3 linked regions of the Homo sapiens genome follow. The protein of the gene in region 3 interacts with the protein of the main gene of each other region in a pairwise test. Each region holds a gene or a part of one and is shown on either strand. Other genes may lie near its edges.

Evidence for each region.
Region 1: the proteins of DBT (region 3) and GRPEL2 interact in binary tests that used the Homo sapiens proteins (3 or more experiments, as listed by UniProt).
Region 2: the proteins of DBT (region 3) and MRRF interact in binary tests that used the Homo sapiens proteins (3 or more experiments, as listed by UniProt).

What each region holds. Positions count from the first base shown.
Region 1 is NC_000005.10:149,341,322-149,348,748, forward strand, and holds the start of GRPEL2 (grpE protein homolog 2, mitochondrial precursor), read left to right. Parts: upstream 1-4,177; 5' UTR 4,178-4,218; coding exon 4,219-4,295; intron 4,296-6,794; exon of another isoform or gene 6,795-6,950; coding exon 6,951-7,104; intron 7,105-7,427. UniProt on the Homo sapiens protein: Essential component of the PAM complex, a complex required for the translocation of transit peptide-containing proteins from the inner membrane into the mitochondrial matrix in an ATP-dependent manner.
Region 2 is NC_000009.12:122,260,751-122,268,131, reverse strand, and holds the start of MRRF (ribosome-recycling factor, mitochondrial isoform 1 precursor), read right to left. Parts: upstream 3,251-7,381; 5' UTR 3,194-3,250; exon of another isoform or gene 2,859-3,193; intron 2,671-2,858; exon of another isoform or gene 2,387-2,670; coding exon of another isoform or gene 2,352-2,386; intron 1-2,351. Other genes in the region: RBM18 (probable RNA-binding protein 18), read left to right, coding at 6,640-6,752. UniProt on the Homo sapiens protein: Responsible for the disassembly of ribosomes from messenger RNA at the termination of mitochondrial protein biosynthesis. Acts in collaboration with GFM2. Promotes mitochondrial ribosome recycling by dissolution of intersubunit contacts.
Region 3 is NC_000001.11:100,211,772-100,219,118, forward strand, and holds part of DBT (lipoamide acyltransferase component of branched-chain alpha-keto acid dehydrogenase complex, mitochondrial isoform 1 precursor), read right to left. Parts: intron 6,977-7,347; coding exon 6,855-6,976; intron 4,429-6,854; coding exon 4,212-4,428; intron 3,213-4,211; coding exon 3,046-3,212; intron 2,180-3,045; exon of another isoform or gene 1,452-2,179; intron 1-1,451. UniProt on the Homo sapiens protein: The branched-chain alpha-keto dehydrogenase complex catalyzes the overall conversion of alpha-keto acids to acyl-CoA and CO(2).

The sequences.
Region 1 (7,427 bases), on a different chromosome or scaffold from region 3:
ACCTGACCAGTAATCACCCACTGATTAGTGGCAGAGCGTAGGACTTAGGGGTTATAAGCCCAGATCCAGATAGGGCTAGGTTTGAGCCATGCCTCTAATGACCAGCTGGGTGACCTTGGGAAAGTCACTTGATTGCTCTGATTCTTGTTTTCCTTATCTGTGAAATGGGACTAACAATTGTTACTTTTCTCCCAAGATTGTTGGGAAGATTTAATAAGATAATATATAGTAGGCATCTTGCATAGTGTCTGAGAAATAAGAAATGCTCAGTCAATAGTGGCTCTCATTAGCCAGGCATGGTGGTACTCGCCTGTAGTCCCAGCTACTCAGGAGGCTGAGGCAGGAGGACCGCTTGAGCCCAGGAGTTTGAGACTGTAGTGCACTATGATCACGCCTGTGAATTGCCACTGCACTCCAGCCTAAGCAAATAGCAAGACCCCATCTATTAAAAAAAAAAAGTGGCTATTATTAGCTATATCAGAAATGTCTGACTCACAAGCCTGTGTTCTTTCCACTGAAGAGGAAATTACTTTTCAGTGTTCTTTTTTAAAACGTGGATCCTGAAATGTCACCTAACTCTCCAACTATGTCTTCAGTGTCTGTCATACTCTTTCTTATGCAGTTATTTTGGGGTTAAGTGTCTTTTCTCACCAACAGATGAACTCTCAGAGGAGTGGCTGGGGGTAATTAATAATTAACATTTATCAAGCACTCACCATATGTCAGGCACTGTGTCAGCCATGGCCAGCTTCACAGGCATGCAACCTGTGCAGTCACACAGGGCCCCATGCTTAGAAGGGCCCTGTTCTTGGTTTAATGCTCTACTATTGCCTTCTTAATCATATTTGAACAAGGAGTTCTGCTTTTCCTTTTGCCCTTTAAATTAGATAGCCAGTCCTGGTGCTAACTAACCACTTTTCTAGGTATTATCCCTTTAGTTTTCACTGAAACCCTGAGATAAGTTATATTGCCCTAGTTTTCACAGTTCAGGAAATGGAAGCTCACAGAGGTCAGGTAACTTGTCCAAGCTCCCATAGTTCTTATATTTACATGCTGGTGGAGCCAGCATGTGAATATAAGAAGTCTGACCCTAGAGCCTTATTCTTAATTTTAAAGCTCTATGTCATCCATATATCTCCCTCCCCTTGTACTGCAACATTCAGAAGCACACTAGCACTTAATAAATAGACGAATGAATGCATGGATGCAAGCAGCAACCTGGTGAACGTTAGGCAGCTAGGAGAAATGTAAGCAAAATGGCTAAGGCACAGATGCCACTTGTTCTTGGTTGTTAAAATGCCTTGTTTAGGCCAGGTATGGTGGCTCATGCCTGTAATCCCAGCACTTTGGGAGGCCGAAGCGGGTGGATCACTTGAGGTCAGGAGTTCAAGACCAGCCTGGCCAACATGGCAAAACCCCATCTCTATCAAAAATACAAAAGTTAGCTGGGCACGGTGGCACATGCCGGTAGTCCCAGCTACTTGGGAGGCTGAGGGAGGAGAATCACTTGAACCCGGGAGGTGGAGGTTGCAGTGAGCCGAGATCGCACCACTGCACTCCAGCCTGGGCAATAGCAAGACTCCATCTCAAAAAAAAAAAAATGCCTTATTTGGTTGTGTTTTTTCAAAGTGTAAGCCACAGGTCTAAGCCCAACACTGCCAAGTGTTCAGTCTGTCAGAATTCTACTGTCACTGTTTCCTTATTGCGGGATCTTGCATAGGTTTACCAACCTTTCTGAGCCTCAATTTTCTCATATGTAAAAGAGAATCATAATACCTCCCTAAACCATATCACCCTTTTCATAAGGCCAAAAAGAAAATATAAGTTATTGGTCATGACACATTTGAGTTGGACCTCGGATTAGATAAAAAGATGAAAATACTCCAGCTCTGTCCTCATGGAACTCAGAGACAAGCAGGAAAGAAAATGTGACCCAAATAACTACAGTACAAATAACCCATGTTATGACAAGATTCAGAGTGCTCAAGGAACACTTCCCATTCCCTTAAAAAAAAAAATTAAGGGACTATCCAGTAACTAAGCTGGCAACTCCAAGTGCCCTGGACCCCAGTCACCAATCCATCCTCTCAGTCTGTCAGCTTTCCATCCTAAATCTCTAAAATTCATCCATATCTTCCTATCTTCACTGACACTATCCAACTTAATTAAGTCATTCAACAAATACTTGAGTACCTACTATACTAGATGTCAGAAATCAGTGGTGAACAAGACAGACACCTCATGAAGCTCACATTCTAGTTGGAGGAAAAAACCTTAACAAGGAAGCAAAAGAAATAAAATACTAAGAAACTAAAAGGGTGCTGGACACAGTTACTTTACAGTGGTTAGGAAGGTCTCTCTCTGTTCTTCCAGGACAGAATATAGCCCCATCTTGCCTGGGCTACTGCAACATATTGCCTTCCCTACCTCTTTTCTTACACCTTGCAATCTGCTTCACACAGCAGTCAAAGTGACTCTTTAAACATGAAAGCCTTTGTCACATGTTCCCTGTCAATCTAAAATAATTTAAAAGGTCAGAATCTAGTTTAAAGAGAGTTTATTCAAGCACAAAGGTTGAGGATGGCCTGCCCAGGAAGCACAGAATGGAAAAATATGTCTGTCTTAAAAAAGATGGAAGTCAGTGTTCCAAAGTGTGAAAGGTTGGGTTCAGTGAGGTTTAACAGAATTTCAACATCTTTCTATGCAAGGCTTAATGCACAGTTACAATGATCTGAGTAGTTAAGGTGGTCTTTTTCCTTCAAGAAAGGTACATTTAACATCACATCCTGCAGATGTAACTGTCATGGGGTCAGTTCAGTTCAGGGCACCATCTAGTCTGAGTTAGGTGCAGGACAATAAAGGAGGCTGTCTATTACAAACATCAGTAATTGAGAGGGAAGAAATCTGGTCTCTGCTCTTTCCTAGTCATTACAGAACAAGAACAATGAGGAAGAGAATTAAGCTATAATTCTAAGAAGCAGAACTACAAAACATGCTACATGGACTCAGACCACAGCCACATCTCTCTCAAAGCTTCAAGTATTTGGGAGGTTCCAACAGCTTTTAGGTTTTATTTATTTTCACATTCCATTGCAATCAGAATCAGACTAAATTGCATTCAGCAAAAAAGTTTTTTGAAGCCGGGGGCGGTGGCTCATGCCTGTAATCCCAGCACTTTGGAAGGCTGAGGAAGGCAGATCACCTGAGGTCAGGAGTTCAAGCCCAGCCTAACCAACATGGTGAAACCCTGTCTCTACTAAAAATACAAAAATTAGCCGGGTGTAGTGGGCGCCTGTAATCCCAGCTACTGAGGAGGCTGAGGCAGGAGAATCACTTGAACCTGGGAGGCAGAGGTTGCAGTGAGCCGAGATCGTGCCACTGCACTCCAGCCTGGGTGACAGAGTGAGACTCCATCTCAAAAAAAATAATTTTGAACACCTACATTAGGGCACTGCTCAATGGGAATGAATAGACAATATCTCTGCCTTAAAAGAGCTTATATTTTAGTGAGAGGAAATGAGAAAATACACACTATTTAAAAAAACAATTCAGTCGATAAGAAGGGCATTAGAGAAAAAGACTGGGAGGAGTGATGGGCAATGGTTCAGGCTGCGATGTTTTAAACCGCTCACGTGATCTAGCCCTTCCTAACCACCAGTCCTGTTGCCCTCCCGCCTCAGTATATTTCAGTCCCTTACATGCAATACTCTTCTCTCTTTATTAGGCTTCTGCAGATGTTTCCCTCTGCCTGAACCCTTTCTTCAGCTCAGCTCAAATACCCCCTTCCTCTGGGAAAACTTTCCACAAGGCTAGATTTCTATTCTAGGCTTCCGCGACACCTGCCCCTCACCTTCAAACACCGCTCATATTCTGACTTTACATCCCGCTTGTATCTGTTTATCGCTCATAATATCAAGTAAGCTCCATGCGGGCACAGCTATGATCTGCTTTCTTTGCTGCCGACCCTGCGCCCAGCACGGAGACTGTAGTTACTACTAGGACCTCGCCTACCCGCGGAACACACTGAGAGCCGGAAGTGTTGCCTTAGCTCCGGACGACCGGATGGGGAACGGCGCGGCCCATCGGGCAACCGGAAGCATAGCGTTCCTGTCCGGAAGTCCTGAGAGGGAAACGCCCGCAAAGGCTGGTTTTTAAGCGGGAGCATCTCTTCACTCGCAGCAAGTGCGCGTGCGCTGCCTCTCAGCCCAAATTGGAAACATGGCCGTACGGTCGCTGTGGGCGGGCCGGCTGCGGGTGCAGCGCCTACTGGCCTGGAGTGCCGCGTGGGAGAGCAAGTAAGCATTGCAGGCGGGGAGTCGGGAGCGTGAGGACTCTGAGGGGCTAGCGAGCCAGCCGGGGTGGTTGTGGGCTGGAAGGCGAGAGCTATCTGAGCGTAGGCCAGGGGACCAAGCTTCTCGGCCTCTACGACCGTGCACTCACGGCCCCATTTTACAGACGGGGAAACTGAGGCCATCAGCCGTGCCTCTTTCTTAGGCCGAGGAAGGTAAGGAGATCCGAGGTCATGCATGGCCTGGAAGGTGAGAAGTCTCTTAAGCCCCCAAGGGAGGGATGTACCACTCTCCCGGCCTCTTCTCCCAGCCTGTGGTACCTGTGGGTAAATTTGGGTTCTCTCCCCTCACTCCGTGTGACCTAAGGCCAGTCCTTTCTCCGTTATCCGGGCACTGTTGTACCTGTCAGTAAAAGGAGGCCGCTGAACTTGTTTCTCCAAACGGCCATTGCATCAGCCTTCGGAAGACAAGTTCCATCGGCAGCTTTTATTGGTCGCTTACGAGGCCGACTGCAGAATTATGGGTGGTTCTTTTTATTATTACCCATTTAGTAGTTAAGGAAAGTGAGGTTTAGAAAAGTTGAGTAACTTCCAAACTTAAATATTTGGGAAGTGGTGGAACCCGGGCTGGAAACCAGTCAGGGCGTTGGAATCGGCGCTCTTATTTAATGAGCGATGTTAATTAATTTTCTCAGAGACTGTTGCCCCTACACTGTTTCTTCCTGGGATAGAGAATAAAAATAGTTGAGTACGAGGTAGGGTTGGACCTCTGAATAGTAAAGTAAGCTACGGGAGAATCTGGTAAATGTGCTTAACTACATATGTCACCCTTTTTACCTTAACACACCTGACCCAACATCCTACCCTAGCACCTAAGTGAGAGGTTGCATTCAGGGTTTCGGGACTTGGTTTTGCTTACCGTTCTCAAGTCTTTTTGGCAGCTTGTTGGTGATGTAAGGAAATGACCAGAAGAAAAATGGTTCCTTCTGGTAAGCTGTCTCCCTACTCCAGTTCTGAAGCAGTAGGAATTGAGATTGGCCACAACTCCCCAACCCTATTTCTTGGTCTAAGCTTTGGCCATTTTCCCTTTGAACTGGCCCTGAGAATTTTTTTTTTTTTTTTTTTTTTTTTTTTTTTTTTTTTTTTGAGACGGAGTCTCACTCTGTCGCCCAGGCTGGAGTGCAGTGGCACAATCTCGGCTCACTGCAAGCTCCGCCTCCCGGGTTCACGCCATTCTCCTGCCTCAGCCTCCCGAGTAGCTGGGACTACAGGCGCCCGCCACTACGCCCAGCTAATTTTTTGTATTTTTAGTAGAGACGGGGTTTCACCGTGGTCTCGATCTCCTGACCTCGTGATCCGCACGCCTCGGCCTCCCAAAGTGCTGGGATTACAGGCGTGAGCCACCGCGCCCGGCCCCTGAGAATATTTTGACCTGCTTTTTCAAGTGGATAAATGTGGTTTTTTTAGGGAGAAGATGTTTCACCGTGTGTAATTAGCCCCAGATCTACGGTGACCATATTTTCTGACCCCAAAATGTGGAACTGTCTATAAAATCACACACCGGATTATAATAATTGAATTTAAGATCAGCTTGGAAAGTAGGAGAGATAAAAGTCCTCTTGCTTACACCTTTAAACTAGCTATTTGCTCTGCCCAGGATGCTCTTCCCTTTTCTAAAGCTGACTCCTTTACCCTCTTTAAGCCTTTGCTCAGCTGTCTCCGTGAGGACCACTCTACAGTATATGCCAGTCCATAAAAATTGTTTTAAAGAACTCATGTACTCACAGATTGATTTTCAAGATAATTTTACTTACAGTCAAATTACGAAGATCCAGGAGTTGCAGTGGAAACTTCCTTGAACTGGGCCAGGTCAGGACTGCCACAGCCCAAGATTTGCTGTAAACTAGCCCCTAGTCTAAATTTATTTCTGTGTAAACTGAACTAAATGTCAAAACAGTTTAGCTGTACAAAATTCTAGATTACATAACTAGTTGAATGCAAAGATCTATTTTCACCTGTGTCTATTCACCGGCAGTAACATATAGTATTGTATAAGTATTTCATTGACTTGATCTTATTTATAGGTGGGAATTTCTTTCTCAGCACAGGTCTCCTAAAAGCCTTACAGGTTGTGGTGAGGAAGGCTTAGAATTCTAAGCCTTAAGGTCCCTTTACTGGACTTAATTTCCCTCATCTGTAAGTTAGAAGGTTGAACCAGAACTATATGACTTTTTGAATGCCCACTTCTGACAATGCTCCTCTGGTTCTGGGTACTAGCATTTGGTTTCCTTATGCTGACTTTTGTATACCCAGTTCTGGCTATTTCTGCTGCCTGGTTCTTAGTGTCCTGACCCAGCGGAATACCAACTATGTGATCTTGAGCAGGCCATTATGCCTTAAGCCTCTCAGCATCAGTTTTCTCATCTGTAAAATAGGGATAATGATAGGACTTATCTCACATATTGTTGTGAGAGGAAAAGATGACTCAAGTAAAACAGTGTCTGGTACATGGTAAGGACTTCGTAAGTGTTCATTTGTTACTATAACTGAAAACACTTTCTCCAGAGATTCCATCTGGGAAGATCTCTGGTCTCTAAACTTGGTTGTAATTTTGGCTTATGATGGCATTTCTTCATTATGTGCCACCTCCTTCCTGTTTTAGGGGATGGCCGCTTCCATTCAGCACTGCCACCCAGAGAACTGCTGGTGAGGACTGCCGTTCTGAGGACCCTCCTGATGAGCTTGGGCCCCCTCTTGCTGAACGAGCCTTAAGGGTAAAAGCTGTTAAACTGGAGAAAGAAGTCCAAGATTTAACAGTGAGTCAATTTTATATTTCTTCTTCATATCCTCTCTCTAGTTTAAATATCCACATAAAGTTTTTTATGTCAATTTTCAAAATGAAGTTTTCTTTAATTGGCTCTTTATCTGCTACCCCTCATCCCTCCTCCACTCCTTGCTAGGTATACTGGGCAGAAAAAAACTGTAGTAGTTGAAAAACACCACTGGCTAAAGATAGTCATCTCTTTTCGGTTTCCTGTTATGTCACAGCACTTAGATATCTGATGTTTCAGCAGATTAAAGGAGGTGTACAGTGCCTGGAATATAGTAGACAATAAATATTTGTTGAATGAGTGAGGTC
Region 2 (7,381 bases), on a different chromosome or scaffold from region 3:
CCTTTAGGTCCTTTACCTTAAGGGTATACAAATTAACATTCAGTTCAGCACAGATAAAGAATTAAAGTTGAAGAAAAATTTGTTGAGATCCCAAGTATGAGCCAACAAAATTAACCTATACATAGAAGCAATGTGGGGAAGTGTCTGAGCTTTGGACGCAGTCTGGAACTGGAATCTCAATTCCCCCACTTACTAGCTGTGTGACCTTGGGGAGGTCATTTAGCCTCTCTGAGCTACAGCTTCCACATCATCATCATAGTGATATTAATGAGACTTTAAAAGATAACAATAATGACAATACCTAACATTTATATAACAATGACTACGTGACAGAAACTATTCTAAGTGGTTTATGCACATGAACTCATTTCAGCCTCATGATAACCCTGAAGTAAGTACTATGATTATTCCCACTTTACAGATAAGAAAACAGAAGCAAAAATCTGCCCAAGATTTGAATTCAGTCAATCTAGCTCTAGAGTCTATGTTATTAACTGCTATACAATGCATATAGAACACTCAGCATGGCTGGGAACAGTGATGGGTGCCTATAGTCCCAGTTACTTGGGATGCTAAGGAAGGAGGATCACTTCAGGCCAGGAGTCCAAGGCCAGCCTTGGCAATATAGTGAGACCTAGTCACTTAACAAAACACATACACACAGTACAATGCCTGGCATCCAGTAGGTACACAATAAATTGTAGCTATTATAATAGCATCCCAACTATTAAATTTTTTTTTTTTTTTTTTTGAGACAGAGTCTCACTCTGTTGCCCAGGCTGGAGAGCAGTGGCACGTTCTCAGCTCACTGCAACCTATGCCTTCCAGGTTCAGGGGATTCTCCTGCCTCAGCCTCCTGAGTAGGTGGGACTACAGGCACCCACCACCACACCCAGTTAACTTTTATATATTTTAAGTAGAGATGGGGTTTCACCATGTTGGCCAGGCTGGTCTCAAACTCCTTACCTCAGGTGATCTGCCCGCCTCGGCCTCCCAAAGTGCTGGGATTACCGGCGTGAGCCACTGCGCCGGCCTGAATTTTTTTTCTTTTTTTTTTTTTTTGAGACGGAGTCTCACTCTGTCGCCCAGGCTGGAGTGCAGTGGCGCAATCTTGGCTCACTGCAACCTCCGCCTCCAGGGTTCAAGCCATTCTCCTAACTCAACCTCCCAAATAGCTGGGATTACAGGCGTGCGCCACCACACCCAGCTAATTTTTGTATTTTTAGTAGACGGGGTTTCACCGTGTTAGCCAGGATGGTCTCGACCCCCTGACCTCGTGATCCGCCCGCCTGGGCCTCCCAATGTGCTGAGATTACAGACTGAAATATTTTTTTAAACTACTTGAAGCACACATTCTTTTTCCAAAGTTGAGGGTCTCAAACGATTTCCCTGTTCTTCACAGAAGGTTCATTTTAATTTTGGCTAGATGACCAACCCAAAATCCTGGCTTATCTACTGTCCCAGCAACTCTTTTCAATGCAGCTGTATACTAGCTTATAACATAAGCACTTCTATGAGTGTGCATATACGCAGGCTCTTGCATATAAAATACTTTCACATGTACCATCTTAACTGGTTCTCATAACTAAAGAGTGATAATCACCACCCGTATTTTGCAAAATAAGAAAAGTGATCTTTCACTTCTCCAGGGCTCCCCCTGCTCCAGGGTCTTCAAACATGCCATTGAATCTCCTTGATGATCTTCCCTCACCTCTTTAACTGTTTGTCTCCGTTTTTATTTCAGATTTCAGCTTAACCATCACTTCCTCAGAGGACGGCTTCCTTGGCCATCTCCTACAGCCCAACTAGGTCAAGTGTCCTGTAGTCTGCTTTCATAGCACCCTTTACTTCATCATAGCACTTAATTCTTAACAATACAAGCTAACATTTGTGTAATTATTTGATTGTCTAATTCCCTCCATATGACTCTAAGTACTACAAGGACTAATCTATGATTTTCTTGTTCACTGCTGTATCCCCAGTACCTGGTACATTGCCAGAACACAGAAGACACTGTGAATGTGATGAATACATCAGTGAAAGTCCAGAAAGATAAATTCCTTATCCAGGGTAAACCAGAATCGGATGGGAATCTACCCTTACTATTATGGTAGGTTCTGGGCTTCCCAGCGTTGCCTCCACTGTCTCTGGTTTGCCAGATTTTTGCTTAGAGATAGTAGATGATGTTCTTCTCTAAATGCAGTACCAGGTAAAGAAAGGTACTTGTAGTATCTGACTATACACAGAATCATTATGCACCTGGCACGGCCAAAGAAGGAATGAGACACTTTAACAGGTAGAGAAAGGGCTTTTGCCTAAGAGTTAAGAGATCTGGATTCCAGTATGCCTACCTTATCACTCCCTGCCATCTGCCATTTAGATTCATAATCACACGTATTCAAAAAGCATTTGCGGCAGCTCTACCACTGACTTGTGACTTGTACCAAGTGATTTCTCCTACGTAGATTTTGTTTCAACCATAAAATGAAGGGGTCAGATCAGGTTTTCATTCTTTCCAACTATAAAGCTTTCCAAAATGGGGGGAAATGCAACAGTGTGGTTTAAAACAAAATAAAGGCACTAAACTTAGAGAAAACTCCGAGTCTTGGTTCCAGCACTTCCTAGGCACGTGACCTTAAATCGGTCAAACTCTCAGGACTTCCGTCTCATCTGTAAAACGTAAATGACAATACTATTTGTCAGGGTTAAGTAAATGGAGAAGGGCTACTGAAATGACAACTGTTTTGCCACTGGGTGGCACAGAGTGGTGGTTAAAAGTCCAGGCTTAGGAGTCGGATAGCCCTAGGTCTGAATTTAAGCGCCCTCACTTTCTGACCGCGTGACCCTGGTAAAATTACCTATGTGAGCTTCCGTTTCTTCATTATGGGAGATAATAATATCTACTCCTATGGGATTGTTCTGAAACTCAAACGTTCCCGTCAAGTGTGCGGCTACTCTTTAGTAAGTTCCTCCAGCATCCCCTAAATTCCTAGCTGGTAAAAGGAGCCCCGCCCCCACCCCATGAGACTCGCTCCAATGCCACAGGTCCCGCCCTCAGCCTTAAAGGTCAAGCTGGACTCGAACGGGTCGGGGACGGTAGTCTGGTCCCCTGAGGTCCCCCAGAGGTCCCTGAGTAAGGGTCTCTGGCACCCAGACCACACGCGCCCCTCGAGGCCCTGTCAAGGACACTCACCAGCTATCGCCCAGGTTACTAAGGAAAGACTCGTGCGACGGCGGCGACCGCAGCTGCGCGGACGTCGTGACGTCACGAAGCCAGGAGGCGGCGCAGGCTTAACGCGTCACGGGCGGCCTGGCAGCTGGCGGCATTGAGGCGGACGCGTCTAGAGGTCCGTCTGACCGCGGCGTCGGGACCTGGTTTCCGGGCATGAGCTGAGAGCACCACGCCGAGGCCACGAGGTGAGTTCGGCCGCGACATGTCCCTGCACCTCAGCGATGGGCCCGCTAAGAGGTCTTACAGGAGGCCGCCCTCGCAGGACTGCATCTCAGGCCCCGCCCCGGATTGTCCTGTCGCTGGCCCGGAAATAACAATCCGAGTAATGACCCTTCGCCTGTAGGAATTCGCAGCCAGAAATCGGGAAGCCAGGGTTCCAGGCATGACCCCACCGCTTGCTGTTAGGATCAGGTGTCTCTTCTTCTCTGGATTGCACTTTCCCCAGATGACTATTTCTGGCTTCCAGAGTTATTGCAGCTCAGCTGGAAAGACAAATGTAACCGCGTTTTGTGAACTCTGGTAGTCTAAAGGATTGTTGCTATTGCAAACGCAAAGCATTTTGATAGTCCCGTGCCGTCTTGATCTTTTATTACCCTTTACCTTTCCTCAAAAAGCCATATTCTGAGCTGTCACCAAAATTGTCTTATTTAAGACTCACAACGACCTCGTGAGACGACAAATTGTACCCATTCTAGGAAGGAAAAAGAAACTAAGTCTTCGAGTGGAGAAGCGGCTTGCTTCATTTAGTAAATATTAAGCACCAACCGTGAGACAGGCAGTGTACTTAAGTGCTAGAAATAGAACCGTGATCAAGATTGGCAAGGTCCTGTGCTGTGGGAGCTTACGTTCTAGTGAAGGAAATAGAAGAGGAAACATTAAGTAATACATTGAATTAGCATTTAGTAGGAGGAAAAAGATGGAAAAGTGGCTATGATATAGAATAACAAGGAACTCTGTTTAGGAAAGCTTTTCTATCGAGAGGATGCTTAAAGAAAGGTCATGTGACTTGCTAAAGGTGCAGTTACTAGGTGCAAAAGTCAGGATTTGAACCCAGACCCGCATAGCCTGCACTCTTACCAGTAAAACATGGTACCTTTTCGTGGTAATAAATATTAATAGCTATTGGTATTATTCCTGATTTTAGACATGAGAAAATCAGAATGTCCTATCATTCAAGTCCCAAATGTCATCTCCTTTAGAGAGGCCTTCCCTCCACTCAATCTATAGTCGTCGAGTCCCTGTCACATCACCCTGCTTAATTGTGTTTGTGGCATGTATCACTAATTATATCTTCTTTATTTATTTTGCTTTTGTTTTGTCCTGCTCCCCTTCCAAATACAAGCATCCAGAGGATAGGGACCTTGCTTGTTCACTGCTCTGACTCCAGTAACTGGATAAGTCCTAGATAATAGAAGCAGTGAATTTATTTTTTGAATGAATGATTTGTTTAAAAAGTAGGGGGAAAGGAAAGCAGAGGGAAGACAAAAATGTGTCTCCCCTGGGATTAAATTTATGTCTGTTTCACCTTTCTCCCAGGAGGTAAGAACAAGAGCTGTGGCTTTTTCATTTGTCTATTTCAGTACATAGCCCAGAGTTTAACAGTTCCTAGTTGCTTGACTTACATTGCTGAACAGATTAAAGATGTGAATGGGAAAGGAAGAAAAATACCCTCATGTGCAGGGTATTCAATAAACAATTACCTAGGGACTGCTGTGCTAGACTTTACAGGGTGTGCTGAGATGATTAAGAGGTAATGGCAGTTGTTGTGACTGCCTCCATGGTTCCTGTAGTGCTGACCTCTGAGGTACTTCTGGGTATAGGATATGTGTTCTCTAGCAGGGACTTCTGAACTCTGACACAGCCTGCTGTCCTCCCAGCCCCTAAAGCTTTATTTCACATCTGTCGTCTCATTTTTGGTCCTCGAAGCCTTAAGTTATAAACAGGGCAAAATTTATTAAAGATGGGTAAACTGAAGCTCAGAAAGAAATAACTTCCAGTGGAAATGCCACAGTTTGTGCTGGGCATGGTGGCTCACACCTGTAATCCCAGCACTTTGAGAGGCCGACGTGGATGGATCACTTGGGGTCAGGAGTTGGAGACCAGCCTGGCCAACATAGTGAAACCCTGCCTCTACAAGAAAATACAAAAATTAGACAGGCTTAGTGGCATGCACCTGTAATCCCAGCTACTCGGGAGGCTGAGGCATGAGAATTGCTTGAACCCGGGAAGTGGAAGTTGTAGTGAGCCGAGATCGTGCCACCGCCCATGAGTCTGGGCAACAGAGCGAGAGTCTGTCTCAAAAACAAAAAAAAAGAGAAAGAAAGAAATGCCACAATTTGAAACAATGTCTTCTGACACCAAGGTTTCTGCTCTTTCTACTGCTGTCTCCATCATAATCATAATCCTCTTTTCTCCTTGGCTGTGAGATGAGACATTTCAGGAACTAAGACTAGTAATAATTTAAGCTAACATTAATTGAATGCTTCCTAGGTGCCATGCACGGTTCTAAATGCTCTAGGTGTATTAACTCAGTGAATCTGCACTGTAATTTCATGAGGCATTATCCCCATTTTACAGATGAGGGAACTGAGGCCAACAGCTGTTAAGTAACTTGCACAGGGCTACATAGCTAGCAAATGGTGGAACTTGAATAACTAAGGAGGAAATTAGTCTCTTCTTCCTGGTCTGTCCCAAAAGAGTAAGCATGATAATAGCTAGTATTTATTGATTACTTACTGTTGTTAGATACAGTATTTAGTGATTTTTTTACTGTCTTTAATCTTCACAACAACTCTATAAAATAAGCACTATTATCTCTCTAGATAATGAGGAAACTGAGGCCTAGAAAGTTCAGGTAGTTCATCAAGTCACACAACCTGCTTTCAAACCCAGTTCTGTCTACGCACAGATTTCTTATATTGCCTCTTCTCTTTGCTATATTGCCTCTTCTCTTTGCTATATTGCCTCTTCCATGAGGAAAAGGGATGGAGTGCTGCTCTTCCCTACCCATCCCTTTTAATGCCATTAAGACTCTTCCTGGTGGTTTCCAAGGCTTATTTTGGGTGACAGTTGTTGAACTGAAGTATCATGTAGTAATAGAGACTTTGGCCTCCTGCCCAGTCAGCCTCTGGCTTCAGAGGAGGAAAACTTTAGTTTCTCCACACAGAACCACGCCCCTTTCACCTTAAATGGCAGCTTGTGTGCCCTGGCTGCCAGAGCAGTTGTCCCAAGGGAACTGGTTCTGGGGCCCTGGTTGTGGAATCACTGAGGCCTTTGAAGGACTGCCCAGAGGGCATGCCCTCCTTGAATAAATGTTTGTTGAGTTGAATTTGAAGTCTTGTGTTCACACATTGTTACTCCCCTCCTGCCTGAATGTTCACATTTCCTTTAGTATTTCATAGACATTGATGGAAGCAGAAACCAAAACTCTTCCCCTGGAGAATGCATCCATCCTTTCAGAGGGCTCTCTGCAGGAAGGACACCGATTATGGATTGGCAACCTGGACCCCAAAATTACCGAGTAAGTCTAAGTTACCTTAGTTTTTTACCTACAATATTGGGATGTTTTGTGGTGATGATGTCAAGAAGAATTTTCAAGGGGTGTGGGATATACTTAGACCCTTTTACTTACATCGTGTCTTCGGAGAGATAAGATGTTGTTAGCCTGTTATCTTGTCACTTTTTTTACATTTGGACTCTGCTACTGCAAGGACACAGACTTGGGTATCCTTTAATCCATATACCTGTTTTTTTCCTATCTGCCAAAGACGTTCTCCCATTTCCAACTATTTGAATCCTTGTACCTAGTAGCTCTAGGGAATTATTCTCTAGAATCAGCCTTGGGAATACATTTGTACCCAGAATAAAGGAACAAGCAGAAGTCTCAGTACCTTTGCAAACAGGCAGAGGAGACCACTTGACTGTAATTCATATTAAGCAGCCATAGAACTATAGAAGGTCAGAGTTGTAAGGAACCTTAGAAATCATGTCCCTTTGGTTTTCATTCATTCATTAAATGATTTGAGTGCCAAGTGCCATGCTAAGCAGTTTGCAGACTTCTTAAATCTGAAGAACCCTGTCTTAGAGTAAAAGTAATAATCAGAGCTGTATATAAAATAAGAGCTCAGAGTTGCTCTGACTAAAAGGGAG
Region 3 (7,347 bases):
TTTTTCTTGTTTGTTTTTGAGACAGGGTCTTTCTTTGTCACCTAGGCTGCAGTGCAGTGGCATGATCTCAGCTCACTGTAGCCTCAACGTCCTTGGCTCGAGTGACCCTCCTGCCTCAGCCTCCCGAGTAGCTGGAACTATAGGCGTGTGCCACCATGCCCAGGTAACTTTTGTATTTTTTGTAGAGATGGGGTTTCACCATGTTGCCCAGGCTGGTCTTGAACTCCTGAGCTCAAGCAATCTGCCTGCCTTGGCCTCCTAAAGTGTTGGGATTACAGTCGTGAGACACTGCGCCCAGCCAACTTGAAAGTTTTAGTAAGCATTTGATTCAATAACTGTAATTTTAATAGTCTTTATCTAAAAACCCCTAAGGTTAGTCTAAACTGTTACATATAAAAATATTTGAGTATAATCCAAATTTTGTCCAAGAAAATACAAGGTATGTGTCAATGGATTAGGTCATTTGTTCCCCCTCTACAATACTGTGTAGTATTTTTTCGAATGTTCTGAAACTTATGTTTTATTTTAAAACAAAATAGCCAGGCATGCTGGCTCATCCCTGTAAGACCAGCCTGGGCAGCACTGCGAGACACATCTCTACTAAGAATAAAAAAAAATTAGCCAGGTGTGGTGGTGCACACCTGTGGTTCCAGCTTCTCGGGAGGCTGAGGCAGAGGATCACTTGAACCCAGGAGTTCAAGGTTGCAGTGAGCTGTGATTGTGCCACTGCACTCCAGCAGCCTGGGCAACAAAGTGAACCCTTTCTAAAAAAAAAAAGAAGAAAGAAAGAAAAAGGGAGATAAAGAAGAATAGTTTCTGCCTCATGAGGCTCAGCGCCCAGTAAGTGAGTAAGTGAAGAGAAAACTGAGTAAGCACTCAATGCACTGAGATAAGTTAACAGTGGGAAACAAAAGTATTTAATTCAAATAGTGACAGCCACAGAAGGAGTCTGTACCTGACCACAGTTTGGGATTTGCAGGTGTTTGATCGAGAAGAACGGGCACTTCAGGTGGAATTGTGTATTCCAGCAATTATGGGTACCTTAATATGAGGGAGTGAGGTAAGAATGGAGAGGCAGGCAGCAGAGACTTATAACACATTTGTATGCCACACTAAGGAGTATGGCATACAAATTATCCTGAAGGTAATGAAAGGGAACCACTGAAAAGAATCAGAGAATATTACAGTAATTTGATTTACGGAAGACCAGTCTTGGTGCAGTGTAGAGAAAGGACTGGACATGTTGGCATTACAGACATCAGTATGTCCTTCTGAGTAAAACAGACCAGAACCTGAAAGAGCTTCTCCACCTGTTAGCTGTAAGTCCTTAACAAGTTTCTCAACCTCTCTGAGCCCCAATTTCCTTAAATGGAAAGTGGAGACAGTAATATTTACATGTCAGGGTTACTCTGAGAATTAAGAGATAATGGGCCCTGCCCCGCGTCTGCCTCAGAGGGGCCCGAGCCACCCGGGGCGTGCGCCGCGTCCCCGCCGGGGCCGACAGAGCCGAGCCGGGCCGCCATGGACCACAAGACTCTGCTGCAGGAGCGGCCGCCCGCCTACAACCTGGAGGCCGGCCAGGGCGACTACGCGTGAGGCCCGCACGGCTACGGCGCCATCCCCGCCGCGCCCCCGCAGCCGCCCTACTCCTACCTCGTCACACGGACACCCACCCACCATCCCAGGGTCTACAACATCCACAGCTGGACCGTCATCCGCTATCCTACCAACTCTATCGTGGTCGTGGGAGGCTGTCCCGTCTGCAGGGTCGGGGGGCTGCAGGACTGCTTCACCTTCCTGGGCATCTTCCTGGCCATCATCCTGTTCCCCTTTGGGTTCATTTGCTGTTTTGCCTTGAGGGAGCGAAGATGCCCCAACTGTGGAGCCACCTTCGCTTAAAGGGAACACCAGGCTCGGCCTTTCCTACACCCAGCTCTCTTTTTCTAATGTAAATGTTGTGTTCAATAGTTTTATTTGATTAAGCTTCAGGACTGTTTTGTAAAGCGAGGTGGGACCGATGTGGCACACGCCAGCTGCGGTTTCCCGGAGCGTGGAGAGGCAGCGCTGCTGCTCCTGCCCCAGGCTCATGACAACTCAATGAAGCACTGCTTTTATTTTTTGCAGTCTTCAATTTGAGAAAGGTGAGAAATAATCTTTTCAATAAATGAGATTCATACCAAAAAAAAAAAAAAAAAAGAGAGAGATAATGTATACAGCATGCTTACTATGGAGGCTGGCACATGGTAGCTGCTGCACAGTCACTAATGTGAGCTAGACTGTATGCTGCTCAAGGTTAGCTGATGGTCTTACTCCATTTTATACTGGTCCCAAGGCTTAGCACTAGAAATGATTCCCAGGATCCTCAATATAAGTTGGTTGAGTAAATGAAAATAAATATTAAATATATGTCAGTGATATTGCAAAATTAATATCAAGTCTCATTTTAGTTCAAACCAAGACTTGGTTGGAGTGATCCTTTTAGGATCAGAGGCTTTACTTAACTGGCAGAATTGTCTCTACCTAGCTCAAAGATAAGCAGCTAAAAATATAGTACAGAAATCTCAATTTTATAATTTCCTATTGAACAAAGAAATGGCACATTTTCTAACTATCTGATGTTGCGAAAAGTAATATTTTTATTCAAGGCCACAGTCAACATATTGCATGTTGGCAAAGCAAAATTTAAATGTCCTACTTGGGGCCAGGTATGGTGGCTCACGCCTGGAATTCCAGCACTTTGGGAGGCTGGGGCGGGGGTGGATCACCTGAGGTCAGGAGTTCAAGACCAGCCTGACCAACATGGCGAAACCACGTGTCTACTAAAAATACAAAATTAGCCAGGCGTGGTGGCAGGTGCCTGTATTCCCAGCTACTCAGGAGGCTAAGGCAAGAGAATTGTTTAAACCCGGAAGGTGGAGGTTGCAGTGAGCCGAGATTGTGCCATTGCACTCCAGCCTGGGTGACAAGAGCAAAACTCTGTCTCAAAAAGACAAACAAACAAATAAATGTCCTACTCAAGCCTTGTTTGAAATGAATGAATCTCACCTTTAAGAAGAAAGGCATAAAGGAGAGTTTAATTCCACGAGCAAATGCAATGGGTTTTAATTCTTCTCGGAGCTTAACCAGTTCAGTAAGGTCAATCTCATCACAATAACCAAAATGAGGTATCTTCAGGGCTGCAGACATAGTCTTGACCATTGCTTTTTGAAAGCCTGAAAAGCATTAAATTGTTATTCATTTATTTAAATTCTCAAATCTCTTCATCCTTTTTTTTTTTTTTAAAGAAACTAAAATGGAAGGTTCTCTAATGTCTTTTACTCTCTCAGTTAAACCCTTCCTCTTACTACTCTCTTCATTACATTACACTGAAAGTCACTAATTTCAAAGCTGGAACACTGACTGCATCATGACACTCAGTGGCAAATGCAATAACATAGCAGGTAACTGCTTTAAATGCTGTGTTATATAAAAAATTCAAAAGAATGCAAGCCATGTATTTCCCTAACAGCTTTCCTGCAAAGCCACTCTTCTGGAAGTTAATCATTCCAGGAGTTTATAAATAACAAATCAGAACTAGTTATTTTGAAAGCTAACTACAAATAGTGAATGTTTAAAATGTCCTGTGTGTCTTCAAACAGAGCAATTATCAATATACAAGTTTATATTTCAAGAAACCTGCTAACGTATTACTCTTCAGAAGATAATGATACACATAAATTGTAAGTGTTTCCTGGAAAAGCTATGCTATTTCACCATTTAAAAATTATGGCCAGGCGCAGTGGCTCACGCCTGTAATCCCTGCACTGTGGGAGGCTGAGGAGGGTGGATCACCTGAGGTCAGGAGTTCGAGACCAGCCTGGCCAACATGATGAAACCCTGTCTCTACTAAAAATACAAAAAATTAGCTGAGCATGGTGGCGTGCACCTGTAATCCCAGATACTCAGGAGGCTGAGGCAGGAGAATTGCTTGAACCTGGGAGGCGGAGGCTGCAGTGAGCCAAGATCGTGCCACTGCACTACAGTCTGGACAACAAGAACAAAACTCCATCTCAAAAAAAAAGAAAAGAAAAGAAAAATTATATGCTGACTGAAGTTGAACTTTCCCTTCAGTAAGACTTGAAAACACCATATTATATACATTTATCTACTGAGGTAGCTTCCCCCAAAATAAATGAACTATTGCCTTATAGTATTGTTATTATTATCATTACCTTTTATGGGTTCTGTTTTGTCTTTGCCTGTGAATACCGGAGGTTTTGATACTAGTATAGGAACAGTCATGTCTTTTGGCTTTGGTGGAGGTGGCATAATTTCAACTTTGGGTGAAGGAGGCAATATAGCTCCTGTCTGCTTTTCCAAATAGTTGAGGATATCTTCTTTAAGTATTCTGCCATCTTTTCCTGAGCCAACAACTTCACTCAGCTTAATCTAAAAAATGATATATTTTAATGCCAAAAATACAACTATTTAAAAACATCATTAAAGTTTCAAAATGGAATTTGATCAACTGACAGTAAAATATATCTGTCCAATAAATTAGTAAAAGGAAATAACCTTTTCATTTTCTACTTAAGTAATCATTACTTTTGTATATACTGTTCACATATGCATGTGGTAACCATCAGGTATCTATATTATATATAATCTAGAGCTATTTATGAAAACTTACTTTTTAAAAAAATTTTTTGTAGAGACAGGGTCTCACTCTGTTGCCCTGGCTGGTCTTGAACTCCTAGCCTCAAGCTATCCTCTCACCTCAGCCTCCCAAAAGTGCTGGAATTACAGGCGTGAGCCACTATGCCCAGCTGAAAACTTACATTTTTATACTCAAGTATTTTAAAATCTCTTGCATAATTCTTACTCGACCTTTTCTATTCTTGGGGACTACATAAGAAGAGGGAGAGCTGAGAATTTAAGAGAAACTAAATGCTATACCAAATTTAGACCAATGTTTCTGACACTGGCTACCAGTTAAAAACGTAACAACTTAAATAATCATAATACAAAAGCTCTCTCAAATTAGTTATTTTTCTGGTAGTTGCTTTGGAAAGATCAGTACAAAACATTTAATTCTATTTAAATAAAAATAAACATAAAAGCTTGGAATGATCTCCTCATATATAGTATGTATTAATTTCTTAGGGATAGGCCCCATTTCATTTGTATTAGTGCATCTCTAAGGATGACTAAAATAATAAAGGACTTTACTAAGGCAAACACTAAGTTTGTAACAAATGGACTATGAAAATTTAAACAAATAATTTTTAGGCAGTTACAAACAACTGTAAATGCCACTGGTTCTTAATTTTAAACAAACTCAATTCATAAATATGCAAATTCAAAGAAAAAAGATGATTTCTGATAACTAAATCCAATATTTAATTTTTAGTAATCATACAAGCACTCTACCCAAGTATTCTATACCCATCTTTAGGGAGTGTTTTAGGAAAGCCAAATCATACATTTCTTCTATATATTTCTTTCTATATTATTAAGAAAAAAATTATTAAAATGCTTTATAGATTTCAAAGCAAAATGTTAAATCATTATTTCATCTGATGCCCTTAATAACCTAATGTTCCACGTTACTATATCTATTTTCTGTTATGCTAAATGGTCTTCATACTTAAACACATTTAAGGGTTACATAACATTTTATCAAGGATACATAACATAATTTGAATGTGTATGCATCTTCTAATTTTTGGCTATATAAAATACAAGGAAGAATGATTCCTAGATTATTTTCTTGGGATAGTTCCCCAGTGGCAGGATAACTGGCTGAAAGAATATGAACATTTTAATGACTCTATTACATATTTCACAAAATATAAACTTTTATTTTTTTCCCACAGCAACCTTACTTTTCTCAAAAAGAGACAAACAAAAAGTCTCATTGTGGGGCACAGTGGAAAGTATTCAGGTTTCAGAACCAGACAGATTTGTGTTCAAATCCCTAGTTCAGCTTACTTGGTTTTAGATAAGTTAATCAACCTGCCTGCAGGGTCCTTGTGAGGATTACAGATGTGTCTATAGTGTCTGGCACATATGTGCTCAAATAATGGAGGCAATGATTGTTGAGGTTTATATAACATCTAACAGCACAGGTTTTGGAGTGATATAGACTCACTTTTGAATTCTGGCTCTTGCTATGTTAGCTGTGTGACTTTAGACTAGTTACTTAAACCCTCCAAGTCTTAAAATAGCTCCTTATCTTACAGGGTTAAATGAGAATACGTAAATACCTATCCCAGTGCCAGGGAGCCACCCTGCCTGGCATTCCACCTTCCATTCAGTCAATGACTGGCAGAGGAAATACAAAAGGCCGGCCTCCTTGCCTCAAAGCAGTAATTCTGTGGTTCTCCCTTGCACCCTCAGATCAGGCCAGAGTCTTTCTTTTTTTACTTAGGACCATGGCAAGCTTTGGGACAGGCCAGATGCTTGATACCATAACCATGTCTGGCCAATTTCCCTTCTCTTCTCTTTTTTATCTTGCTTCCTTCAGTCCCTTTACAGGTTTTCCCTCCTTCAAATTCCTATCTCATGCTGTGCCTCTAGAGCACCTGACATAAGACCTGGTATTTACAAGTGCTCAGTAAATGGTAGCTCTTACTGTTATTAGGCTCTAAGAAAGAATAATAAAATCATACTGCTCAATTGATAGTAAGTAATAAGTTTACAACTTCTCATTTCTCCCATGTATTTTTATGCAACTATTGCTTTTCAGTAGCAAATATCTTCATGTTTCCTTAATTTCATTGAGCTATTTCATCATGGGATAGTTGGCTAATTTTTCAGAGATACAAATGTACACTTCCTATACAATCTCAGACTTAAATATTAAGAGAACTTACATTGTTTTCCATTGCCAGACGGCGAACTGCAGGAGTTGCCAGTGTTTTTCGGCCCTTTATCTCTTGGTGTGTATGTTCATCATGAGACACTGCAGGAGTTTCAACAACATCTTCTTCTGAATCTGGTAACAAGGTAAAACTTAACTTCAGTTGAAAAAAAATTTTTTTTTTTTACTAAGATGTAAAGTAAGGCCACTAAGATGTGGCCTATAATATCTAAATAAATTAAAGTTTATAGTCTAAATGTATAAAAGTTGAACTACTTCAGAATAGGAAAACACAACTATCCTAATGGTATGGGTAGAGTGGGGGGGGGGGTGTGTGCCGGTACCTGGTACTTTTTAATTATTAGTACCTGGTGGATATGTCACTCCTGTTGAAATAATATAGCAGCTACAAGTTTAAACATGAGAGTTTTCCTCAAGAAATTTTAAAATGTGTTGTGGCTAGGTACAGTGGCTCACGCCTGCAATCCCAGCAATTTGGGAGGTCA